Homo sapiens: one gene and its partner. The protein of the gene in region 1 interacts with the protein of each later gene in a biochemical or structural test. Each region holds a gene or a part of one and is shown on either strand. Other genes may lie near its edges.

Region 1 (7,388 bases):
TACGTAGCCAAAATTAACATGCTTCATCCAGGCCCCACCATCAAAATCTCACTATCCAAGGTCCCACTGTCTAAGGTTACTTAGACAGTGGGACACCTCAAAACACATCTTACATTTCTCAGTCTCTCTAGGGGTGTGAAAGGTACTGACACATTTTTTAAACAATATCAGACATGACAAGCCCTTTTTTTTCTTTTTTTGAGACAGAGTCTTACTCGGTCGCCAGGCTGGAGTAGAGTGGCACGATCTGGGCTCACTGCAACCTCCGCCTCCCGGGTTCAAGCAATTCTCCTGCCTCAGCCTCCCAAGTAGCTGGGATTACAGGCGCCTGCCACCATGCCTGGCTAATTTTTGTGTTTTTAGTAGAGACAGGGTTTCACCATGTTGGCCAGGCTGGTCTCAAACACCTGGACTTTGAGTGATCTACCCGTCTCAGCCTCCCAAAGTGCTGGGATTACAGGTGTGAGCCACCACACCCAGTCGACAAGCCCTCTTTTTAAAATATATCCCTGGTCCTCAAAGGCAGTTAAAGCTGTGAGCCACCTATACTAGCTGTAAATTAAAGCTTAAGATTTCACCTGGGTATGTTTCTAAAATAAGAATCCTTAGGAATGTATTATTAAGAGGGGCCAGAGGCAACAGTAATGGAGTCATCACCTTCCTTAACATGTCTGCTTAATATTCAAAAATAAATGTGATCATACCACTCCTTTACATGAATTACCTCCACCAGTCCATACTGTGGGACCAAAGCCAGACAGCCTGCCAGTAAGAAAAGGAATCTAGATTGCAGGATGCGGGGCGGAGAAGAGTTTTTAAGAATGGAGAAATGCATTCCAAACCCAAGTAGCAGGGTTGTATTTGTTCAGGTCAGCTCTGAGCATCATGCGTCTTTTTTTTTTTTTTTTAAGACAAAGTCACGCTCTTGTCGCGCAGGCTGGAGTGCAATGATGCGATCTCGGCTCACTGCAACCTCTGCCTCCTGGGTTCAAGCAATTCTCCTTCCTCAGCCTCCCGAGTAGCTGGGATTACAGGCGCCTGCCACCACACCCAGCTAATTTTTGGTAGAGACGGGGTTTCACCATGTTGATCAGGTTGGTCTTGAACTCCTGACCTCAGGCAATCCACCTGTTTCGGCCTCCCAAAGTGCTGGGATGACAGGCTAGAGCCTACGCGCCCAGCCCATCATGTGTCATTTTTATAGTGTGCATAAGTGCGGGGAATGTTAGTAAAGTGTATGGACAATCTGAAAACCCAGTTACACTTCAGTTAAAAGTGTGGATCAGTTAGCTAGAAAATACCTGCGCACGGCGGCTCATGCCTGTAATCCCAGCACTTTGGGAGGCCAAGGCATCACCGGAGGTCGGGAGTTCGAGACCAGCCTGACCAACATGGAGAAACCCCGTTTCTACTAAAAAAAATTACAAAATTAGCTGGGCATGGTGGCACATGCCTGTAATCCCAGCTACTCGGGAGACTGAGGCAGGAGAATCGCTTGAACCTGGGAGGCAGAGGTTGCGGTGAGCCAAGATCGCACCATTGCACTCCAGCCTGGGCAACAAGAGCAAAATTCCATCTCAAAAAAAAAAAAAAAAAGAAAAGAAAAAGAAAATACCTGTGCACACCAACACAAACGAAAGGATGTTGTGTGACTTACAAAAAACCTCACAAGAAGGGGTCCTTTGAGTCTCCACTCCACTTGACCCCTTGCTACTCACAATGTGATGAGTAGACAAACAGTATCTGATGGGCAGCACCCACCACAGGAGAACTTCTTAGAAATGCAGAATCTCAGGACCTGTCCCAGAGCTATGGAAGGAGGGCACACATCTTACCAAGATCCCCAAATGATTCCTGTGCCCAGTGACGTTCGAGATGCACTCCATAGCGCATTCAGAACCATTCTACAAACCACTTTTGAGCTTTCCACTAATTGGGCAGAGGCTGCACACACCATCATTGCAAATCGATAGGGGTTTTGAAGCCCTGGGTGTTTCCTGTTTCTGGCACAGCATGGCAACTGTCCCAGCAAGGGGCAGCCCACGGGAGCTCCTTTGCACACAAGCCCTGCTGCTCCTAAAGGCTCTGGACACACAGGAGACCTCCCAGCCTGCTTGCGGGGGGGGCGGGGGGGACACTCGCTCCTAACAGGTCTTGTTTCAGGTCAGAGATAACTGGATTAGAAACCTGACTTGGGTCCCTAATTGCAGAAAGAGTGAAGGAGGACAAAGAAGAAATGGGGAAGGAAGGCACCTGAGCTAGCACTTTCCTGTCTGAGGCTAGGGCGGGTATGACGGGCAGGCCAGGTGCCCACACTTGGCCGGCTGAGAGGGGTACGAGGCAGGCTGCTCAGGGCAGAGAAGAGGAATGCAAGATGGAATCAGGTGTACACCTGTGAGACGGACCCCCAGGTGGGCCCCTCCAAGGTCAAGGGAGGAGATGAGGACTTGAGTGAGGCTGAGCCAGCTTCTGGAGAGAGGGGCTACCAGACAGAGAGCGAGAGAGGCGCTCAGACATCAGACGGACAGACAGAGGCTGACGGCAGGAGGCTCAGAGGGCCCAACGTCAGCCCGCCGGGCAGGCTCCCCAGGCAGACAGACAGGACGGGGCCCACCGCCCAAGGCCCGACTCACAGGTGCGCGATGCCCGCCTTGCGCACCGCCGAAGAGATGGCTTTGACTGCTGTGCAGAGCGAGTTGAGCAGCTGGGTCAACTCGCCCGTGCCGCGGGCCTTCCTGCCCTCCTCCATGACGAAGCGGGTCAGGGTGTTGACGTCCGTGTCGAAGGGCGCCTGGTCAGCCATGCTTGAACCGGGTAGAGCGCGGGGCTGCAGGTGCAAGCGGCAGGTGCGGGGCTGCAGGTGCGGGCGGCAAGAGAGGGCAGTAGGCACTGGCCGCAGGTGCGGAGCTGCAGGTGCGGGCGGCAGGTGCGGGCCGCGGGACCTGGCGGGAGGACTGACAGACCGACTGCCGCCCCGAGTGTCCGCAGCGCTCGTGGTGCAACTGGGCCAGGCCAGGCGCCGGCGGGTGAATCGCGGAAACCTTTAGACGCGGGTCGGCCCCCCGCCCCCGGGAACACTCTTGCGCCCCGCCTACCCCGCGGACCAGACCGCGGCTCCGCCTGCTTGGATCTTCAGACAAGGTCGGGGATCCTCCCTGCGGTCTCCCAACCCCCGCCCCCACGCGCCCTGCCGCCCCCTAGTCTTCCTGGGCTGTCGCCCCCCACACACACCCCTCCGTGCCCTCCACCCGCACTGTGGAGCGGGACTCGGGCCATCGGACTCTGCCAGAGAGAAAGCTATGACTGTTTCCTCCAAAATCATAAAACGGAAGTTCAGAAAGGTTAAGTAACTTGCTCAATGCCACCAGCTAGGCAGCGAAACCCGCAGCCAGTCCACATGGCCTGGCTTTAGCTCTGCAGCTCCTGCCCCGTGTGGCTGCCTGCCCCCGCCCCCTGCCCAAGCCCCGTCCACTCTGCCTGGCCTGTCACCTGGCCCTTCTGTCCCCGCTAGGAGACACAGAGTCCCCGTTTCTCACCCATCTGAGGGCCCACGTCTGAATCCTTAATCCAGGCCTCTTCTCAAGATTCCTAGAATTCGAGAGCTATTGAGTATTTGAATTTCCAAGATGTGAGTCTCGCCCGGAAGTTTCCCGGAAAACGGTCGCTGACACAGAGTCCTCGGCTACCACACAAAGGCCAGAGGGCTCCACCGCCCGCATCCTGACCCCCTGGTAGCCACAATGCTGCAATTGATGTGCTGATTCACGAAACAACACCTATTGAGCACCTGCTGTGCTGAACACTGTCCTACCTTCCAGGGGTGGAGCCTGATCCAAACAGACAAAACTCCTGCCCTTTTCGAGTGTACGTTTTCACAGAGAAACAGTAAAAATAAATATATAAACAATAGATTAGTTTGTTACATAAGCCATAAGTACCATAGAGAGAAACGAAATAGAAAAGGAAGACACGGAATGTGGAGGGGAGAAGAGGGTGAGCAGAGGCCTCAGTAAAAGCTTCTCTGAGAAAGGGATATGTGAGCAAAGAGGTGAAGGATGCAACGCGCCGGTGGAGATGGGAAGGAGAGCGGTTTCCTCACCGGGAGAGCCAGTGCACAGGCCCTGGGGTAGGAGACCATGTTTCAGGTTCAGGGAATGGCCAGGAGACCGGTGGAGCTGAAATAGAGCTAGCAAGGGTCAGAGGTGGAGGAGATAAGGCCAGCGGGAGGATGCAGAGGTGAGGTCTAGAGGGCCAAGTGAGGTTTGACTTTGACTAGGAGGAACCCACTGGAGAGTTTGGAGAAGAAGAGAGGCATGGTCTACCCTGTGTCTTCATACTGCGGCTACTGTGTGAAGATCAGACTGAAGACAGTGCCCTCCAGGTTACTAGGAGATAGTGAGCCAGGTGTTAGCAGTGGAGGTGGTGGATTCTGGACATATTTTGAAGGTAGAGCTGATGGGATTCGTTGACAGATGAGATATGTGAGAGACAGGAGTCTCGGATGATTCTAAGGTTTGAGGCCTGAGAAACTAGAAGAATGCAGTTGTCCTCGACTGCGATGGGGAACACCGAGAGGGGCGTGTGCTGGAGGCAGGACTGACAATTAGGAGCTAAGTGTGGGACCTGCTAAGTTTGAAATGCCTTCTAGACATCCAAGGCAATGTCAAATAGACAGATTTATGTATCTGGAGTTCAGAGGAGAGATCCATGCTGCAGGTATAAATTGGAAAAGCCAACTGGAAAAACCAACCAAAAACCAAGAGATGTGACATCCGGGAAGCCAGATGAAGAAGGTAAGTAAAGGCGGGCTGACCCATGTGCCAAGCGGTGTGGATGGGGCAGGCAGGACAAGCTCTGAAAATTGACTGCTGGATTCACCGTGGAGACCTGGGGTGCAGATTCCTGTGCCCAGGGTTGTCAGATGCGGCGGCGTTGAATGAAGGAAGGTGGTGGTACCACCAGGAAAGACAGCGACTGTCTCCTCAAAGCCCCAGAGGGGACTTAGATGCCTGGCAAAGAGAGTTGATCCTTTAAGGGTCTTATTTAACTCTTTGTTCCTCAGGCAACTTTTCAGGAAAAACCCTGTGTTAAAAAAAATAGTAAGAGAAATACATCCTTAAACATAAAAACTCAAATAGGCCCGGCTCACTGGCTCACACCTGTAATCCCAGCACTTCACTTTGGGAGGCCGAGGCGGGCAGATCACCTGAGGTTGGGAGCTCGAGACCAGCCTGACCAACATGGAGAAACCCCGTCTCTACTAAAAGTACAAAAATTAGCTGGGCATGGTGGTGCATGCCTGTAATTCCAGCTACTCAGGAGGCTGAGGCAGGAGAATCGCTTGAACCTGGGAGGCGGAGATTGCAGTGAGCAGAGATGGCACCATTGCAGTCCAGCCTGGGCATCAAGAACAAAACTCCATCTCAAAAAAAAAAAAAAAAAAGAAAAACAAACAAACTGGAGGCTGAGGCGGGCAGATCTTGAGGTCAGGAGTTCAAGACCAGCCTGGCCAACATGGTGAAACCCATCTCTACTAAAATAAAAAATTAGCCGGGCATGGTGGTGTGCACCTGTAATTCCAGCTACTCAGGAGGCTGAGGCAGGAGAATCGCTTGAACCCGGGAGACAGAAGTTGCAGTGAGTCAAGATCCTGCCGCTGCACTCCAGCCTGGGCAACAGAGCGAGATTCAATCTCAAAAAAAAAAAAAAGAACTGAAATGTGATGACTAGTATTTTTGGCATAGTAACTAGTTACTAGGGGAGAGCTAGAGCTAGTAACTAGGGGAGTGTGCCCCTTTACTTGCCAGACTCTCAGTCCCTCAGGATCTTGGATTGGCTAGGACCGTAAAAGTCATCTAGTCCAGCCAACCCTCATTGGACACCATCCCTGATAAGAGGTGAAGAGCTTGGGATCTGCATTAAGCAAACTTGTTTGAGTCCCAGCTCCAGCCCTCAGCAGCCAGAGATCTCGGACCAGTTACCTAATCTCTGTAAACCCAGTTTGTTCATCCATATAGTGGAATAATGGTTCCATCTGGCAGTGGTGTCATCGGGCTGAAATGAGATGGCATTGGCAGAGTGCTTAGCTCAGAGCTACACACAGGGGACACACTGAATACGTGGAGGAGACCCCTGTCTAGCTCAGTCACTTCTGCTTGTCACCCACGATGATGGGCAGCTCATTGCCTACAAGGCAAGCCATTCCCCTTGGGACTAGGCCACGTCGCATTGTGGTGAAGTGCACAGACTCTGGGGCTGCATGGCTTGGGTCCAAACCCTGGCCTGGCCACTTACTGGCTGTGCAAGCCTGTGCAATTGGCTAAACCTCACCAAGCAACCATTGGCTCATCTGTAAACTGGGGCTAATGATTGTAGCCACCTCATAGGGTTGCTGGGAGAATTATACAGGCAGTGCTGGTAGTGTTTAAGAACAGTGCCCAGCATGTAGTAAGTACACAGTATGTAAGTGTTTGCTTCGTTACATGGGTAGGGCCAACTGTTGTTTTCATGTGAACAGAAGCAAGAAAGTTCCCTGGCCATCAAAAGGGGCTAGAGGGATGTGGGAATTGGCAGCTGAGCCTGTATTTGCCTGGTGTGCAGTGATATCCCCTCCATCATATTGGTCGATTGTGACTCGCTCTTTTCTGGGTCAAGATGCATAAAGCCCATCACCCAGGTATTAGCAAGAGACAGAGGAAGGCGGCCACCTCACATGGGTTCCTGGCCTGTGGGTTGGGCCCCTCCCTCCTCCACCCACCACCCTCGCAGAGTTGCTTCTTGCCACATACTCCAACTTCACATGGGATTGCAGATTCAAGTGATGTGAGCAGTATTACCACATGTGTAACACTCGAAATCCTGCGAAGAATCAGTGCTCATGCATTTCCTCACCCAGCTCCCACGATGGGGTTATGTTGGAGGCGGGCAGTGGAGAAGTAACAGTGTGGACAGTCCCTGCCCCTACAACAGCCGCCCTCAACCCAGGGCTCCACTGCTTACTTTCCCCTCTGTGGGGGCGGTTAGTGCCACAGGAAAGAAAAACAGGCCAGGCACAGTGCACACACCTGTAATCCCAATGCTCTGGGTTGCCGAGGCAGACAGACCACTTGAGCCCAGGAATTTTAAAAGCGGCCTGGACAACATAAGGAAAACACTGTCTCTAAAAAAATTTAAAAATTACCCAGGAGTGGTGGCGCATGCCTGTAGTCTCAGCTACTGGAGAGGCTGAAGGAGGAGGATCACTTGAGCCCAAGAGGTCGAGGCTGCGGTGAGCCGTGATCACAGCACTGCACTCCAGCCTAGGCAATAGAGTGAGAGTGTGTCTCTAACAAAAACACAAAAAGAAAAACAAAAGCCAAGTGGTGTATGTGAGAGGGATTGCAGTAGCA
Region 2 (7,025 bases), on another chromosome or scaffold:
TCTCTTTTCTATTATGTAGGGATGCCAAGTTATTTTCTAGGACAGTAGGGTTTTCCCAGTGCTTATGGAGTTATGTTACGGATGTGCTTCATTCACCAGGGTGAAGCACGTATCTGACTTTCATCATCCCCAGCACTATATATGCTCCCAGGCTATATGGCTACGTCGGCTTGAGCCACTTCACCTCAAAGCCAGTGACACAGGGGCTATGCAGTGGGATTGTCCATGTTATCTCACAAGACTACTGAGGTACACAAAGCTGTGTCTTCTGCCCAGAATGTTCACCTGAATACAAAGACTGCATCTGATAAATAACCTTACCTATAACATGGATTCCTGCAGTGCCTGTCACTAAAAGTGCAATCTTCTTCTTGAACCACCATCATTATCACCACCACCACCACCACCACCACCACCACCACCACCACCACTACCACCACCACCACCACCACCACTAACAATTACAATAAATGGTGACTGTGTCGAAGTTCCAGGACGGAAGGCTTCATGCATGACATTTTCTCCCTATGAGGTTAGAGCATTTCTTTCTACTTATATAACTACCCACTAGCTCCAAAGGCTGTGAATCCTGGCCCTACTGTGGTCAGAACTGAAGGACAGGAATGACTCAAGGATACTTTTACAAAAGTTCTGAAATTGTGCCACAAGTGGTGGCCAACTCTAAGAAGGGGCGACCAACCAACACCAGGCCGGTCTGGAATCAGAGGAGAGAAACCCCATCCTGGAGAGGAGGGTCCCTCCCATGAAGAAACCAGATGCCCTTGGGATGTCCAGCTGATAAGAGAAAAGTGGGTAGGCCTAGGGGAGGCTGAGCAGGAGCTTTTTTTCCTGGGGTTCCATGGTTTCCTGCTAGCTGAGGAAGACAAGGCAGATTCTTGCTGATCTGGGGGTCAGATTCTTCCTCTTCCTGCCCCCCAGCCACTAACTGCCTTCAGAAGTGGTTTCAGCTCCTTGAGTTTAGTGGAAGATTTTGCTTTGGAGGAGGCCAAGGACAGGAAGTAAGATATAAGCAATAACAAGAAGCCTCACATGTGTTGTGGTGTCTGGACTTCTCAAAGTGCTTGCACAGCCATTATCTCATTTTACAGTGACCCCATGAAACAGGTTAGAAAGTGTTATCTCTATTTTGGAGAAGGGGAAACTGAGATCTGAGGGTTTCCTGAGGAGAAACCCTAGAAGATGAGAGAAGAGTGGCAAAGAGTTGGGGGTGGCAAAGAGCTGCCACAGGAACTGTCACCCTGGGACACATGGCGGCTCTAGATGCTGCAGAAAGCTGAGGTCAGGCAGGGAGATCTCTGCCAGGAAGGGCGCATGCGGGGGGTGCTGCTCAGCAAGCCCCAGTGGCGCTTACTCAAGCCAGGCCTACCCTGGGCCCAGTCTTCTGCATTTCCTTCCCTCCCTGGGGCCGGCCATTGCTCCGGGCATCTGTTCTCCCCATCTTCCTCCTCCTACCTCCCATCATCAGGCTCCACAGTCCCAGAGGCAGGGCTGGTGGGGGAGTTAGGAGCTGTAGGGTATCTAAATACTCCCTCCTATGACAACCCCAGTCTCTTCCCCACCTGCTTCAATCTTCTAAATGAGCTAAGAACCCGAGATGGCATGACATGCCTAAGCAGTCTTAGGCACTCTTTCAACAACTCTAATAAAGGTGATAATAAGAGCTAACACTGAACATTTATTACTAAATTTGAACCTAAGCCATCTAGTCCTGAAGCCCATGCTCTTAATCACTACTGTGTCTCCTAAGAGACACTGGGCCTGGCACTGGGGGGTTAGCATCTGGCTCAGCTACCTTCATCTTCTTCAAAATGGCTGGACACTGGCCGGAATGGAGTTGCATGCAGGAAGGAACAAGGCGGAGGGAAAGGCTCAGTCAGTAATGGAAGAGGGTCAGTCTCCAGGGCAGAAGCTGATGCTCCTTACTGGCCTCTGAAGCAGGAGTACAGATGGAAGTCTCTAGACTCTTTCTCCTGGGGCAGAAGACTGCCTTGAGAATTTCCTCAGGAGCCTGATACACGTATGGAGAAATATGTTCACACCACAATGATGAGAAGAGTTGCACACCAGGAAAGCTCTGCAGATGGACCCTGAGGCTCTGTCAATGGGAGACCACCAAATACAGTACCGGGAACCTCTGAGGGGCACTGATGCAATGAAACAGTGGCACAGGTCCACGAACATGCACCCGGCAATACCACGTCTATGTTCAGTTCCACACCTTTAATACAGGCACAACTCCCCACACACACAGGTAAGACCCATCTCTGCCCACAGCATACACACCCATGGCCCCCTACCTGTCATCACAGTAGGTGAACTTCATGTCCATGCTGTGGCGGCTCAGGAAGGTCTTGCTATCCAGGGGGATGTCCATGTGGGATGGGTGCTGGATTGGTTCACACATGATGATGAGGCAGGACAGCAGGGGCTCCTTGTAGCCACACAGACTATTGTGAGGAGGGCAGTTGTTGTAGACTTTCACCTGGCCCGTGCAGTGCAAGACCTGAGACAGGCGTGGAAGGGTCAGACATGGAGCCGAGAGTGCTGGGGGTGGGGGTAGGGCCTTAGGCATCCCCTGCACCGCCGTTACCCTACACCTGGGACTCCAACCCAGGCCTGATGTTGCCCTACCTTCCAGGTGGCTGACTTGAGGTTGACAGTACGGCCTCTGTTGGTGACCGTGCACTTCATCCTCATGAAGAAGTCCCGCTCTGTGGACATGTCTTTGCTTTTTTTCCCAAAACCAGAGCCTGGATGTGGAAGGATGGGAAGAACCAGCTGAAGTCAGTTTTATATGGATATTCATGAGAGGGGCCCAGCTGCAGTTTTTCTTGGCAGCCTATTGTTTATATTTTCCAAATATCTGCTCTCTTAGCACCTGTGGTCTGCCATCAACACTGAGCTCCATCATGGCCTGTGAACTAATGGTTCCCACTCTCAAGCTTATCTCCTCAACTGGAGCATAAACTCCCACAAGGGAGGAGCTGCTCCATCATTTGATTTCCCATTGCATCTGGAACATGGTCAGTGGTGCCTTCAGAGCAGCGACACAACGACTGCCTATCAGCCACTAACTCAGCCACCCTTTCCTGGGGCAGGCCCAGGTCTTCTCGCAGAAATTCCAAGGGACAGTCTGAGTGAGGCCACAGTTACTCCAAGGGTGTAAGCCTTCCTCACAGGTTAGAAATGTCTCTCCGACACTCCCGTCTTTCCTTTATAACCTGTCTCTCAGGAGGAATTTAACCCCTCCTGTACCCCATTTGCAAACTGCAATAGCTGTGTTCAGGATACCATGCCATTAGCTTTGTCCCTGAAGTGACATATGTATCAAGGCTCTAGAGAGAACTCTGGTACGAATCTCCTTACAGTGGACTTGGTGAGCAAGTCCACTTTATGGATTAACTCAACCTGGATCATATCCTCTCTCTCAGCAAAAATTAAATCACCAAGACCAGCAATATAGCTTACTTCCTTATAGTTGCCAAACAGCCTCCCGATTCAGAACCATTTTCCACTTTTTGTAAAACAAAGTAATGAAGAGTGCCAGCTGAATCCCACTTGTCTGTGTCTAAATCCTGCCTACACCACCATCTCTGGTACCTACTTTCAAAGATATAATCCTGCCCCCTACCCAGCATCATAGAACAATCTAGAGCCTTGTTTCGAATAGTCACACTCCTTCCTCCAGGAACAGTCACCAGCCCCTGCACTTAAACTTCCAGAGGATCTTGACTGACATATTCCTGAAGAGTTATGTGTCAAAGGAACTGTGGCACCCTTGAACAAAACTTCAACATCCTTAGGGGACCCCACTCAGTAACAGACTGAATAGTGAATTTTTTTAAAAAAGAGAGAACATTCCTTCATCACGATTATAAAACCATTTCTCCCATACCAAATTATGATTCTTGCCATTTTAATTTTCAGAGGTGGGGTTAGCATACAATGAGATATACCTGTATCTTGGGATCTGGCCCCACCACCAGGACCAGACCAGTTGTTGGGTATAAGGGGGCTGGAGGGATTCATTTGTGGCTGTTGCTGGGGTATTATTGAGGCCTCTTAACTTGCTAACCTCTGGATTCTCCCCATGCTGACATTTGATCTTTTTTTTTTTTTTTTTTTTTTTTGAGACAGAATCTTGCTCTGTCGCCAGGCTGGAGTGCAGTGGCGTGATCTTGGCTCACTGCAACCTCTGCCTCCTGGGTTCAAGTGATTCTCCTGCCTCAGCCTCCCAAGTAGCTGGGACTACAGGCACGCGCCACCACGCCCAGCTAATTTTTGTATTTTTGGTAGAGATGGGGTTTCACCATGTTGGCCAGGATGGTCTCGATCTCTTGATCTCGTGATCCACCCACCTTGGCCTCCGAAAGTCCTGGGATTACAGGCGTGAGCCACCGTGCCTGGCCTTGTTCATTCTTTCTAAACACTGCTCCACACAGATCACTCCACCCCTGCACAGAAACCTTCAATAGCTCCCCATTGTCTATGGAATAAAGTTCAAGGCCCTCCACCTGGCCTTCAAAGCCTTCCACAATCTGCCTCATGGCTTTCTTTTCCTCTAGGAACTCACACTAACCCTTTAGGTCTAGATCACGAGTCCACCCATAGGCTGGCACCTTCAGTGAAGATTTGCTGTTGCATTGAGTTTGACTGATCCCAAGTCCTCAATATGCAGATCAAGAGATCTAAAGTTCTACTCAGATAATTAGAGGTCACTTGGCTGTGAATCATGGCACTTGAGAACTGAAAGGTTGTCGCCTTTGCCTAGTCCAATACCATCAATTTGAAAAGAAAGACTCTGAGGAACAGAGAAGTAGGGTACTTGCTTCTGGTCACAGACTCAAACTCAGACTATGGTCAGTGGCTGAACTGACACTAAGAACCCAAAGGCCAAAGGGTTTCTGGAGTACAGAAGAAATCAGTCTTTGGTTTTCTCAGGCTTTCTCAGGCTTCAAGCACCTACCCATGCAGAACATGAATCCTCTTTTTAGAGAGCTTTAGAAAGTCTGGTAGCCCTTTCCCCACAGAACCAGACAAGACACTGAGCAGCCTACAGGGTGCTCTCTGCCAGTGTACCCTAGGACCCAGGTGGTCTAAGGCCTGCAGAAGAGAGAGCAGAGGAGCTGGGTGAGGGAGCTGTGGCAGTGGTAGAAGAGGAGGTGGTTGTGATTCTGTACTTTGCAGGCCCAAATGTGGACTGCAGACTCAGTCTGTAATAGGGTGGAGGTGAGCCAATGAAGTGTCTGTTTTTGCAGCGTGTGTGGTAATAAGAGCCAAACCTTGTAGGCTTAGCCTCACTGCCTCTGTTATTCAGGCTGGACAAGCACAAGCCCCATGGCAGTGACAGGTGAGGTTGTTAAAGAGGACATCTAGACATGCACAGAATCTCCCCAGACCAGTGACAGAATCTCAGGTTTGGAAGGGACCTTGACAGTCATTAAGCCCCAATTCTGACCAAAGCTTCAGTCCTCTTAACAATGTCCCTATTCATGCCTTTGTTGAATGGCCACAGTTACAAGACAGGAAGCTCCACTGCCATTGCAACCATTGCAACGTGCTTTCTGCCTGTGTGGGTCCTCTCATCTACTGGCACCTGCTGGGTATCCCCATGGGTAAGGTCCTGAATGCTACATCTTTTTAAACCTCTTCTCCATCAAAACCTACTTGACCTGCGTCTCATCAGGGTACCATTTCCTGTGGTAGCTCTTCTCCAAAAGTAGCTCCAACAAGCCATGCCTTTTGACACTCATGGCTTCGTGTAGTTTCCTCCCACAATGAGCCAGGGCTGGCCTGTAACATGCTCTAACCAACAAGATGGGGCAGAAGTGATGCTCTGCCAATCTGGGGACAAAGCCTTCAGAAGGCCTGGCAGCTTCCACTTTAGTGCTTCTGGGAGCCCTAAACTGCCACGTAAGATGTCTGGCTACCCTAGAGACACCATATGGAGAGGGAGAGTCTCTGAGTCTCCATAGAGTGAGAGAACAGTCCTGTTGTCCCAGCATGCCAACTGAGTCCAGGGTTCCAGCCACCTGCCACAAGGTCCCAGACGTGTGTGAGCTATCCTGATCACCCCAGCCTAGTCTGGCCCCCAGATGACTGCAGCCCAGCTGACATCACATGGAGTACAAGACCCACCCACTGAACCCACAGAACCCTGGGAGATAATCATCAAAGCCCTATGTTATAGGTGGTTTGTTAGACAGCAATAGATAACTACAGTAGTTACTATGAGCACTTTGGCACAGACTAGTTCCTCATTGGTTTGGGTGGTGTCATTTGGCAGAGATGCTTGACTCTTGGGTGATGAAACCTCCTAGAGACAGTGTCCTAACCCAAAGGTGTCCCCTAGTAGTGGGACACCAGGCACCATGCAGGGCCAGCAGGAGATATTTCTGAGTACTGGATCCTCTCAATGCCCCAATCTCATCTCACAGGCTACATACTTAAATTTTTTAAGGACATCCATTTTTCCTGCATCACAAGGGCCATGAGCTATCTCCCTTATACCCGTAGACAAAGGGGAGGCAGATTCCCACCCAGTGGGGGCAAGAAGGAAGTAAACACAATTAAGGATACCATTTTTGAGACTCAGGTTCTCACGAATCTCCTCATGGTCGCAGGGATGAGTGAAGTCAAAGATACTATGTCCTGTTAGCTCCACCTGTTTCAAAAACAAGGTTAGGCATCATTATTCCTAACAGTGAAGTAAAAGACTCCAAGAGTAAGCTGAGCCACCTTCCAGATTTGGAGGCAGGGAGGAGACTGAATTGGGTTTTCTCATAATCCCAGTCCAGTGTCAGGTCCACAGACAGAAAGATGTAATCGGGGACTACTGATGATGACAGAGACTTGGTCTGTTAATGAGTCAGTAGAGAGCTGTCTACCAGGATGGACATGAGCAAAGCCAAACCCAATGCTTGGGGGTGGGAGCGTGGCCTGAGGCGTGTGGCCTGAGGTCAGCGAGGGTCACCGTGGGCATTTGCAGGGAGAGGTCAAGTGGG

Evidence for each region.
Region 2: the proteins of FBP1 (region 1) and EPAS1 form a complex in vitro, tested with the Homo sapiens proteins (one study listed by IntAct).

Annotation. Positions count from the first base shown.
Region 1 is NC_000009.12:94,636,508-94,643,895, forward strand, and holds the start of FBP1 (fructose-1,6-bisphosphatase 1), read right to left. Parts: upstream 3,012-7,388; 5' UTR 2,804-3,011; coding exon 2,634-2,803; intron 1-2,633. UniProt on the Homo sapiens protein: Catalyzes the hydrolysis of fructose 1,6-bisphosphate to fructose 6-phosphate in the presence of divalent cations, acting as a rate-limiting enzyme in gluconeogenesis. Plays a role in regulating glucose sensing and insulin secretion of pancreatic beta-cells.
Region 2 is NC_000002.12:46,356,384-46,363,408, reverse strand, and holds part of EPAS1 (endothelial PAS domain-containing protein 1), read right to left. Parts: intron 6,686-7,025; coding exon 6,601-6,685; intron 2,772-6,600; coding exon 2,653-2,771; intron 2,525-2,652; coding exon 2,319-2,524; intron 1-2,318.